Homo sapiens: one gene and its partners. The protein of the gene in region 2 interacts with the protein of the main gene of each other region in a biochemical or structural test. Each region holds a gene or a part of one and is shown on either strand. Other genes may lie near its edges.

Evidence for each region.
Region 1: the proteins of SELPLG (region 2) and MSN form a complex in vitro, tested with the Homo sapiens proteins (one study listed by BioGRID).
Region 3: the proteins of SELPLG (region 2) and SNX20 interact in a test that uses a peptide from one of them, tested with the Homo sapiens proteins (one study listed by IntAct).

Annotation. Positions count from the first base shown.
Region 1 is NC_000023.11:65,726,602-65,730,351, forward strand, and holds part of MSN (moesin), read left to right. Parts: intron 1-1,212; coding exon 1,213-1,308; intron 1,309-2,836; coding exon 2,837-3,111; intron 3,112-3,750. UniProt on the Homo sapiens protein: Ezrin-radixin-moesin (ERM) family protein that connects the actin cytoskeleton to the plasma membrane and thereby regulates the structure and function of specific domains of the cell cortex.
Region 2 is NC_000012.12:108,627,244-108,630,993, forward strand, and holds part of SELPLG (P-selectin glycoprotein ligand 1 isoform 2 precursor), read right to left. Parts: intron 1,507-3,750; exon of another isoform or gene 1,403-1,506; intron 1-1,402. UniProt on the Homo sapiens protein: A SLe(x)-type proteoglycan, which through high affinity, calcium-dependent interactions with E-, P- and L-selectins, mediates rapid rolling of leukocytes over vascular surfaces during the initial steps in inflammation.
Region 3 is NC_000016.10:50,679,538-50,683,287, reverse strand, and holds the start of SNX20 (sorting nexin-20), read left to right. Parts: upstream 1-1,975; 5' UTR 1,976-2,098; intron 2,099-3,750.

The DNA of each region.
Region 1 (3,750 bases), on a different chromosome or scaffold from region 2:
TCTTTGTGAGTGAGTGTGTGTGTGCATGTGTGTGTGTGTATTTTGAAGGGAGATATTAATTTGTTCATAAGGGAAGGACATCAGCAAAACTGGGTCCTTGTTCCCTGCTTCCATCTCCAGGTATATTTCTATGATTCTTTCTCACCTTACCCTTACCCTCCACTTGCATCCTTCTCCCAAAAAACAAAATAAAAAAGACTGCCTAAGGCCAGCCTGACCTCATTAGGATGTGGCTCAGCTTCACTGCTGCCATCGACAGTGGTGGGTATGCTGGGGTTGAGCTGAGGGCCAGACTATTAACATGCTAATGTCAGGGACTAGAGAACAGAGCTCATCTGTGTTCTCTTGGCAAGCCTCCTTTTCCTGCCCACTGTTCAGCCAGGAGGCTCAGGACAACAGGGGGCACCTCAGCTGCTACACTGAGGTACTTACCCTATTTCTACCCTCATTTCCACCCTAAACCTGTGTAAGAGGAATCATGACTTGGCTCTGATCAGGGTTGGAAAAAATCCTCTCAGAACCCAGGCACAGCATGGCTTCAGAGTCCTTCACAATCCCCGTTTTATCTTCTCAAACATTCTTTATTTGGGGTATTGTAAATGGAACTCAGTCTTAAGGGTGTGGGTATTACCCCCAGTTGCTAAGGATGAAGGACAATATATGGGAGTGGCCCAAGAGAACAAGATACAGGAGTTAATCCAACAATCTCCACCTTCAGCCTTTAATCCATCATGGAAGTGGGAAGTGGTGTGACATTGTAGAGGGAAGGAGGAGGTGGCAGAAATCACTGGATATGCATGGATTTGGAGTCAAACAGACCTGGTTTGAACCCTAATTCTGTCACTCACAACCTGAAACTTGGGCAAGTTATTTCATTTATTTGAACCTCATTTTTGATATCTATAAAATGGGCCTAATTGTAAGTCTAGCATAGGGGTATTATGAAAATTAAAGGAGATGATGGATGTAAGGTTCTTGGTATGTGTCAGTGCTCATAAGTAATAGATCCCTTTCCTGCCTCAGCAGTACTTTGTGCAGAGAGATGCCGACATCAGTTCTTGATTGCTGCTCAAGTATATTTTCTTGCCAGATGCTGAGCACCTTAAACCCTTTAAGGGCAGATATAATATTGACTTCAAACTTTGTGTCCTCTGTGCCTCACACAGAGGAAGTATTCAATCAATGGTTGGTTGTTTTGGTTTTCTCTTCTAGGTGGTGAAAACTATTGGCTTGAGGGAAGTTTGGTTCTTTGGTCTGCAGTACCAGGACACTAAAGGTTTCTCCACCTGGCTGAAACTCAATAAGAAGGTAACTGCTTATTCCTCTGTTGGATTTAGAATTCTTTTCTTTTCCAGAACATTCCTGGGAGGGTACCATGTGCTAGTTGGCAAATCCTGGATACCTAGGGCTGTGTTTGTGACTGGGTGGTCTGTTGACCACTTGGATCAGAATAAGGACCGAGGACACAAGCAAGGCAAAGCTCTTGCTCTGTCTCTACTTTGACTTCTAACAGCGACAATGGCCAGCATTCAAAGAAGAAGAGACTCTTTTCTTTCTAATGGGAACACTAGCTTGAACTTTGACTTGTTTTGGATCAAATCCATTAGTGGCTTTTCAAGAGAGGATTGGTATCCCCTTCATCTCTCCAAACTCAATGGCTTTAGGGGATTTGTGTTTTTTTTGTTTGTTTGTTTTTGTTTTGTTTTGTTTTTGACGGAGTCTCGCACTCTCGCCCAGGCTGGAGTGCAGTGGTGCCATCTCGGCTCACTGCAAGCTCCGCCTCCTGGGTTCACGCCATTCTCCTGCTTCAGCCTCTCGAGTAGCTGGGATTACAGGTGCCTGCCACCACGCCCGGCTAATTTTTTGTATTTTTAGTAGAGACGGGGTTTCACCGTTTTAGCCAGGATGGTCTCGATCTCCTGACCTTGTGATCCGCCCGCCTCGGCCTCCCAAAGTGCTGGGATTACAGGCATGAGCTACTGAGCTTGGCTGGGGATTTGTTAAAAAGAGCCACAGATTCTTGAACTAGAAAAAAAAAAATCTGAAAGATCTTACAGTCTTATGCTGCACCTTCTCCAGCAGTCAACTAATGTCTGAACCCCATATAGATGTTTCCCTCTTTCTTGATCTTTTACCTCAGTTGGACCCCAAATGGGATGGTTTGAGTCCATGCAAGCTCTCCACCCCAAGCAGCATCTTCACGGGAACCTGGCAGCCTTCCATCTTCGTATCCTCAAACTGGCTGGCCTTGTCCTTAGAAGTCTCCATACTGTCCTGCAGTTTGCTTCTCTGATTGTGTCTAGGGAGTAGGTACCCCACCTTCTGCTGGTAGAGTCTTGTTTTCCTAAAGAGTTGAGTCTTTTGCTGGACAAGTGTGGAGCCACTAGTATTCCATTTCAGGCTTTAAAAAATGGTCTAATTTGTGCTCTTGTTTAGCCAGTTCTCAGTCCTCAGACATATATCCTAGTCCTTACTTTGCTAATTTATGAAGTTGGAGGAGACTTATAAGACGAGCTTAAAAGAAGAGCTTATGCCTACTATCAGAATTTGGGGATAGTTGGATATAGTCAGATAAAAGTGGTTTGAAGATTTCTGATCATCAGTCGGTATTAAGGTAATTTCAGGAAGAAATTCCCAACAGAAAGTGATTACAGACATGGGATTCAGTCCCCAGTGAAAGTAATGTATTATTTTTCTTAATTACCAGGGGAGTTGCCACCCAGCTGTCTAAGATTATGCAAATTGATGATCTTTCAGTGTTTTCTCCCCACCCTACAGCCACTCCATTACCCTTAAAACCTATTTTTTGAGAGTCCATAACCCTTACTCTTCCCAGGTGACTGCCCAGGATGTGCGGAAGGAAAGCCCCCTGCTCTTTAAGTTCCGTGCCAAGTTCTACCCTGAGGATGTGTCCGAGGAATTGATTCAGGACATCACTCAGCGCCTGTTCTTTCTGCAAGTGAAAGAGGGCATTCTCAATGATGATATTTACTGCCCGCCTGAGACCGCTGTGCTGCTGGCCTCGTATGCTGTCCAGTCTAAGTATGGCGACTTCAATAAGGAAGTGCATAAGTCTGGCTACCTGGCCGGAGACAAGTTGCTCCCGCAGAGGTGAGGTGGTTCCCTGCCCTCCTTTGCCTTGGCCATAAGGGGCTGCAGCCCACAGCTGACCAATCCCTGCCTCACAGGGATGCCAGATCTGTTCTTCTCCATTGGGGTCTGTCTGAAGACTGTGTTATGCTGCTCAAGAGACATTTGCATATAGTGTCAGACTCTGTTGTTGTTTTTCTGGCTTTCCAAATAAAAAGCCTTTTTGTTTTCCCTCTGTCTACCTGGTTACAGAACTTTATTACCCTGGAGGCAGGTGCTTATATAGAACCAGAGATTGAGTAATTTCTTTCACCCATCCCTGGTTCCATTTTCTCAGTTCTTTTTACTGATTTAGATCTCTTATATCAGAAGTTCACAGGGGAGAGAGAGAAATAAGCAAACCGAGGACATGGGGAGCTCAAATAGTCTTTTAATATTGACAGCTAGTGTACAGAGCTTTCCCCTTTTGTAAACTTCAAAGTCAAAAGCTCTAAAACACTCATTATTTTTGTTTTTGTATCACAATAACACACAAAATGAACAAAGCAGGCAATATCCTTATTTCCTGGCGAAGGAAATAGAGGTGCAGAGGTACTCACACTGACTTTCCCCATCTGGTGCAGCTCATCTGAGGCAGAGCCAGAGCCAGACCTGGAAGCT
Region 2 (3,750 bases):
TGGTGAGAGGTCAAGATCAGACTGAAACCCAGTGAGGTTCAGGAAGGCATGAGGCCGTCAGGAGACACCTGACCTAGTTGAGGAGACAGAAGGCTGGGCTTGTGGACTTGGGTGGGAGAGGGAGGGCAGAGTAAGAAAAAGGAGGAGCTTGAAAGTTATGTCCCCCAGAAAGGCCTGCCACATATTTACCGGGTGCCATGCAGGGCATAGGGTTGAAAGCATAGATGTGGGGTCAGACAAAAAGGATGTTCAAGTCCTAGCTCTGTCCCTTACAAGCTGTATGACCTTGACACAGATGCTTGCCTCCCTGAGCTTCAGTTTTCCCATCTGTAAAATTGGGATAAGAAACAGTGCCCATCTCACAGGGCTGTTGAGACAGTGCAACAAGGGGATAGATTCAAAAGTTCCAGGCTGGTGGGCATGGTGGCTCATGCCTGTAATCCCAGGACTTTGGGAAGCCAAGGCAGGCAGATCACTTGAGCCCATGAGTTCAAGACCAGCCCGGGCAACATAGTGAGATCCCCATCTCGACACAAATAGAAAAATTAGGCCAGTCACGGTGGCTCACTCCTGTAATCCGAGGACTTTGGGAGGCCAAGGCAGGTGGATTGCTTGAGCTCAGGAGTTCCAGACCAGCCTGGGCAACATGGTGAAGCCCTGTCTCTCGTCTCTACAAAATACAAAAAATTAGCCAGGAGTGGTGGTGTGCCCCTGTAGTCCCAGCTACTCAGGAGGCGGAGATGGGAGAATTGCTTGAGCCTGGAGAGATTGAGGCTGCAGTGAGCTGTGATCATGCCACTGCACCCCAGCCTGGGTGACAAAGCAAGACCCTGCCTCAAAAATAAAATAAAAAAATTTTAAATAGAAAAATTAGCCAGGCATGATGATGCACACCTATCGTCTCAGCTACTGGGGAGGCTAATGTGGGAGGATCGCTTAAGCCTGGAAGGTTGAGACTGCAGTGAGCCGAGATTGTACCACTGCACTCCAGCCTGGGCGACAGAGTGAGACCCTGTCTCAAAACAAAACAAGAAAACAAAAGTTCCAAGCTTACAGTAGGTGCTTAATAAATGTAACACACACACACACACACACACACACACACACACACACACACACACTTTTGCCTCCCAATTTGCCTTCAGGGCAGCAGAATTTCTTTGGGGTAGAGTTCTTATCTGGGGGAAGAATCTACGGCCCAACCTTGGCCCCACTTTCCTGGAGGCAGGGACTTTAGGAAGAAGCCATTAGCCTAGAGACATATTTCATACTTATGAGCACACTCACAGCTACCAACCCCCACTTGGGCAGTTCTCTGTTCCTGGAAGGCAAAGCCCTCAGCCACTTCCTGGAAGCAGAGAAGGTGGGGGCAAAGTTGCAAGGCCTGGTCTCCCTGGTTCCCGGGTTGGGGGAGGCATCTTGGTGAGTCAGGGCCGGACTTGCAGCAGGCCGGAGGCTGGGAGAATAACACAGAAACACGGAGGGTGCTGGGGCCCAGTTCTTCAGGTAGGCTGTCACTGTTGCCCACCCTTCCCCTACAGCCATCCCCACAGCCTCCTGCACCCAGAGACAGCTGGGGTGGAGGAGAGGCTGGGGCCTGAATCCCACATTTGCCCCCACTTAGCGGCTGTGTAAACTCGGGCAGGTTGCTTCACCCTCTCTAAGCCTCAGTTTCCTCATTGTAAAACCGGCAATATTGCTTAAAAAAAATCATCATGAGAATTGAATGAGTGTATGGAAGTTCCCAGACGCTGGCTTCCAGCCGGGGGTACTTTATCTGGAGGACTCTCTTCGGCGCTGCAGGCAGATGAGCAGAGGAAATGGAGGTCTCAGACTCAGAGGGTATGGAGATGGCGGCCTCTCTACCTCCCCTGTGGGTGTTTGGGCTTTGAGAAAGCAGAGACCTCCGTACCTGTTATGATAAGACCTGGTACATTCGGAAAGCCCAGACCTCCTTTCCTGGGCCCGTCTAAAGCAACCACCTTATCCTACATGTTCCTGGTGTCAGTGCTGAAAGTCCCTCAACCCCAGAAACCCCTCACTCCCAGGCAAACTGGGGGTGGGGGGTTGTTGGTCACCCCAGCCTGGTCCCTGCCATCCCACTGGCTTTAAGACACAGCAGCCTGGAGCCAGGCCACAGCTGAGCAGGCATCAGCCCATCTAACAGAAAGAAAATCTGAGGCTCAGCCAGGCACGGTGCCTCGAGCTTGTACTCCTAGCACTTTGGGAGGCCAAGGCAGGAGGATGACTTGAAGGCAGGGGTTCAAGACCAGCCTGGGCAACATACTGAGACCCATATCTACAAAAAAATTAAAAATTAGCCAGGTATGCTGGTGATGCCTGTAGTCCCAGCTACTCGGGAGGCTGAGGCCAGAGGATGGCTTGAGCCCAGGTCAAGGCTGCAGTGAGCTATGATCGCACCACTGCACTCCAGCCTGGGTGACAGAGTAAGACCCTGTCTCTAAGAAAAAAACATATTTTTTTTAATGAAAGAAAAGAAAACCCGAGGCTCTGAGAGATCTTGTCTCAGCTGAGGCCACACAGGTAGAAGGGGGAGGAGCTGAGTTTTCTCACCGTGTATGGCAGGTAGCATAATACCTCCTTAATATTTGCTACAGTAAATGTATTATACAACAATAAAAATGACATATGTGGAAGCCCCTCCCACGGAGGGATGATTTCATCCTCTCACTATCTGGTGACCTCATTCCTCCTCACCCCTGTGTTCACTGGCTCTAACGGTGCCATCACACTGATTAGCAAGCAAGGCCCGGAGCGGCGGGATCACTCCCAGGCCCCACCTTCCACCTCTCCTCTTCCTGGAAGGCCAAAAAACAGTCCCACAGAAGTGGGGCCAGGGCAGGGCTCCGACAGAGGCGTCTCCAGTGACCACGTCCTATTTGTCTCAACACTTGCCTAACAGAGTAGGTCAGAGACTGCTCGTTTGCCTCTTTCGCCCTAAAACCAGGCTGCTTCTGGCCCAGGCCCCATCTAGACCCCATATGGGCCCCATCTAGGCTGTGTGGAGGAGCAGGCTGCAGGGGGCCCAGACTCCAGCTCCAGAGAACCCGCCGTGTGGCCGCCCTGAGCTGCTCAGGAAAGATCCTCGTGGGGCTCCACGCCGCTAGGAACCTTGCACTGAGAATCCTGAAACTGGTGGTCAGAGCGGGCAGGATCTTGGAATGCTAAAATTCAAAAGACTGAGCATCTCAGGGTTTGGGTCAAGTAGTCACCAAGAGAAGGAAAGACCCCAGATAACTGAGGCACAGGCAGCAGATCTAAGTCTGGGTAGACAGGACAGGCCCTGCCCTGCCCTGCTGTGCCCTGGGAGTCACATCAAACCAGGTCAATCCCCAGCTCTGTCCCTTAGAAGCTGTGTGACCTGGGGCAACTCACCTCACCTCTCTGAGCTGTGGGTTCCTTAGCTGGAATACAAGGACAATGGTAGCACCCGCTTTTTATGGGGTTGTTGTGGGTTGAAGAGGGCCAGGGAAATGCTGAGTCCTCCCAGAAGCCTTTCCAGATTGCCCCAGGCACGATTAGTCACCTCCCGTGTTTAAATCATTTCTGCTGTTCATTTATTTTCTAAAAATGTATTCACATTGACTCCTAAACTTCCAGAAGGCAGGAACCACAGCTGTCTTGCTGATCAGGCCACAGGCCCAGGATTCAGCCGATGGGCAGGCACACACCCCTCGCAACACTCGCCCCAGTGGCTGGCAACCACTGTGGCTGTCTGCTCTGCTGCCC
Region 3 (3,750 bases), on a different chromosome or scaffold from region 2:
AACACCTACAAACCATTAAAAATAATCAAGTCAATAATGAGCAATGACCTTGAACAGACACTTCATTGGAGAAGGTATAAGGATGGCAAATAAGCCCATGAAAAGATGCTCAACATCATTAGTCCTTAGGGAAATGCAACTTAAAACCTTGATGAGAGACCACTGCACATTAATGCAGTGGTACACTGAAAAACACTGACCAAACCAGACACAGTGGCTCACATTGGTAATCTCAGTACTTTGGGAGCCCAAGGCAGGAGGATTGCTTGGGGCCAGGAGTTCAAGACCAGCCTGGGCAACATAGTGGCCATGATGGTCTATCCCTCCAGAAACAAAAAAAATTTATTAGCCAAGCATGGTGACGTAACTGTAGTCTTAGCCACTCAGGAGGCTGAGGTGGGAGGATCATTTGAGCCCAGGAGTTCTAGGTTGCAGTCAGCTATGATGGTACCATTGCACTCCAGCCTGGGTGATAGAGCAAGACCCCATCTTTAAAATAATTATAATAATGACCATATCAAGTGCAGGTAAGAAGGTGGAGCACCTGGAATTCTCATATACTGCTGGTGGGAATACAAAATGGCACAGCCACTGTGGAAAATATTTGGCGTAATCTAGCACAGTTGAAGCTATCTATACTCTGAGACCCAGCAATTTCACCTCAGATAAGTACATGGACTTGGATAAATGTGTAAGAATATCATCAGTGGCATTGATCATGATGGCCACCCTAGGAACAACCCAAGTGTGCATCAAAAGACAAAACAAAAAATGACAAATGGTGATGTATTTAAATAATGAAGCAACAGAAAACCAAACACAGCATGTTCTCACTCATAAGTGGGAGTTGAACAGTGAGAACACATGGACACAGGGAGGGGAACATCACACGCTGGGGCCTGTCAGGGGTGGGGGCCAGGGGGAAGGAGAGCATTAAGACAAATACCTAATGCATGCAGGGCTTAAAACCTAGATGATGGGTTGATAGGTACAGCAAACCACCACGGCACATATATACCTATGTAACAAACCTGCAGGTTCTACACTGGTATCCCAGAACTTAAAGTAAAATAAATAATAATAATAATGTAGCAACACAACAATGGAAATGAAAAAAAGTATCTACACAGAAATGCATCAGTGAATCTTATACCCATAAATGTTGCATGAAAGAAGCAAGGCACTGGAGAATACACACAGTATGCATGGTTCAATTTATATAAGATTCACAGATGAGTAAAATGAAACTGAATTGTTTGGGGATCTCATAGGTGGTAAATTTCTAAGGAAAAGCCAAGAAGTAACCCCCATCTGAATCAGGACTGTGACTGCCTCTAATAGGGAGGAAGGGAATCATGGCTCAAAAAAAAACACATGGCAAACTTCTGGGCGAGCCAGCAAAGTTCTATTTTTTTTTTTTTTGTCTGATTTCTGTTTCTTGCCTTCAAGGCCACAAAGATGGGTGGGCATGAATCACACCACACTGCCCTGGGGTTTCGCTTCCCTGGGACTTTCTGTTGGTGGTGATGGATACAGCTTTGCTCAGAGAAAAGGCACCAGATGGAACTGTAATTCTACCCCACTGCTCTTCTATGTCAGTCACTGGCTCTGTGTCCCACCAGCTCTGTGATCCAAGCCTCGGTTTTCCCATCTGTTCAAGGGGCATGACGGCCCCCATCATGCCTAGCTCATAGAGTAGAATAATGAATGTTAAAGGGCTCTGGGAGCTAATGCCTGAATTCCAGAGATCAACGGGGACTCGAAGGACAGCCAGACCTCTGCAAGGCGGCAGGGAAAGTGAGGCTGAGCTAAATCCCACAGGGCTGGCCCCACACCGCCTTGCCCTTCCCTGCGCTACCCGGAAGAAGAGGTGGGTACAGCTGGCAGGCTGGCAGTTGAGTTCAATATACCATGTTTCACCAGCCAATGGGCTGGGGCGATCAGAAGCAGGTCACACAGCCTGTTTCCTGTTTTCAAACGGGGAACTTAGAAAGTGGCAGCCCCTCGGCTTGTCGCCGGAGCTGAGAACCAAGAGCTCGAAGGGGCCATATGACACTCCTCCCGGACCCCTGGACACACACAGCCCTGGAGACTGGAGGTCAGTATTTGATCCCAAGCTCAGCTGTCCTCTGCCTGCTGTGGCCTGAGTCCCCTTCTCCTGGGGCCCTGCCTGGCACCTGCTGGGGGCAGGGTGGGAGGGGGAAGAGTTAGTGACAGCCACTGTGTCTGGAGCTCTCCTTAGCACACTGAGGCAGAGGAAGGGACAGCTCCTGGACCTTCCATCACCTCCATTCCTTTTGAAATGCTAGGCGCTTGTACAACCCATCTTGGGCCTGGAGAATAAGTCACCACACCTGTGTTTCTCAAAAGAACAGTGTCAGGGAACCCCTGCCTCAGCACAGCCTTAGAGGACTCATGGAAAATGCAGAATCCAGGCCTGTTCAATGGCACCTTCCTATGTTAGCAGCCAGGAAACCTGCTCTTGGACAAGCCCCTGGGATCCCACCCCCACCCCACCAGGGGATTCTTACACACACTGGGTTGGGAGCCCCTGGCTTTGGCAAGGCTTCTCAGGTGAGCGTCCAGTTGTTGGAGGGTACCCACCCTTTCCCCAAGAGAGGCAGCCACACATCCAACATCCTGGGATCTCTGTCTCCCAGCGTGGGCCATGTGCTTTATTTCACCCCCTAGAGGCTCATCCCCCATGAAAAGTCCTCCGCAGGCCCTCAGAAAGATAGTGTGGCCTCTGTGTGCCCAGCAGAAGAAGGACTGGACTTGGCAGTCAGCTCTTGGAGAGGGGGTGGTTAGGACACCTGGGGACAGGAGGAGGAGAATGACTGTCTGTGCACACACGGCTGGAAGGCAGAGGAGGCTGGGAAGCTGCTCTGTCCCCTGGGCCAACTACAGGCCCCCAGGCCAACAGCAACAACACTTTTAGTATTTTGTTATAAAGTCAAGAAATCTTTGCTACAGAGGGTGAGGAGAGGGAAGGAAAGGGCCATGGAACCGTCTATGTGGCTATCCCCAGAGAGCTTTTAGAGTGACAGGATTGCTTTCCCATTTCACAGATGAGGAAACTGAGGCCTGGAGAGGGATGGGAAGCTACCCAAGGCCCCATGGATACACCAGTGCACAACTCTTTCCTTCCCCCTCCTCTTTAAATGGGTGACTCCCAATGAAACCTGTAAGAGACAACCATAAGGGAGCTGACTGTGGCTGCTGAATTTGATTTTATTCTAAGGCCTGGTTTTATAATCAGCTTTCTCAGTCTTTACTGGAGTGTCAAGCCGAGGCATCATTTCTAGGGTCTTACAGGGTCTCTGGGCCAATAGTGCCCTGCTTCTGACCTGGAGCCAGCTGCCTGGTCATGAAAGCAGATCTGCAAAGGCTGGGGCCCCTGAGGCCAAGGCCACTCGCCATCACCCATTTTACAGAAGTGCTGAGCATAGGAGTGCCCTGGGCCCCCAAGAATCCCAGCCACCAAGAATCACGTAAACCATCCACTGTCTCACTTAGGCACCAGTCAGAATGTAGGGAACCCACCCCTAGTCATCCATCATCTTATCAACAGGACGGGGCTTGTAGCCACATTTATCAGGTAGGGAAACTGAAGCCTAGAGATATTAAAGCACTTGCTTAAGGACACACGGTTGGTCAGGATGGAAGGCGATGTCTCCTGACTCCCTGACAGGCACAAGAGACAAGCGAGAGGTGCCCGTGACGGCATGCTCAAGAACGTGCAGCCCTGGG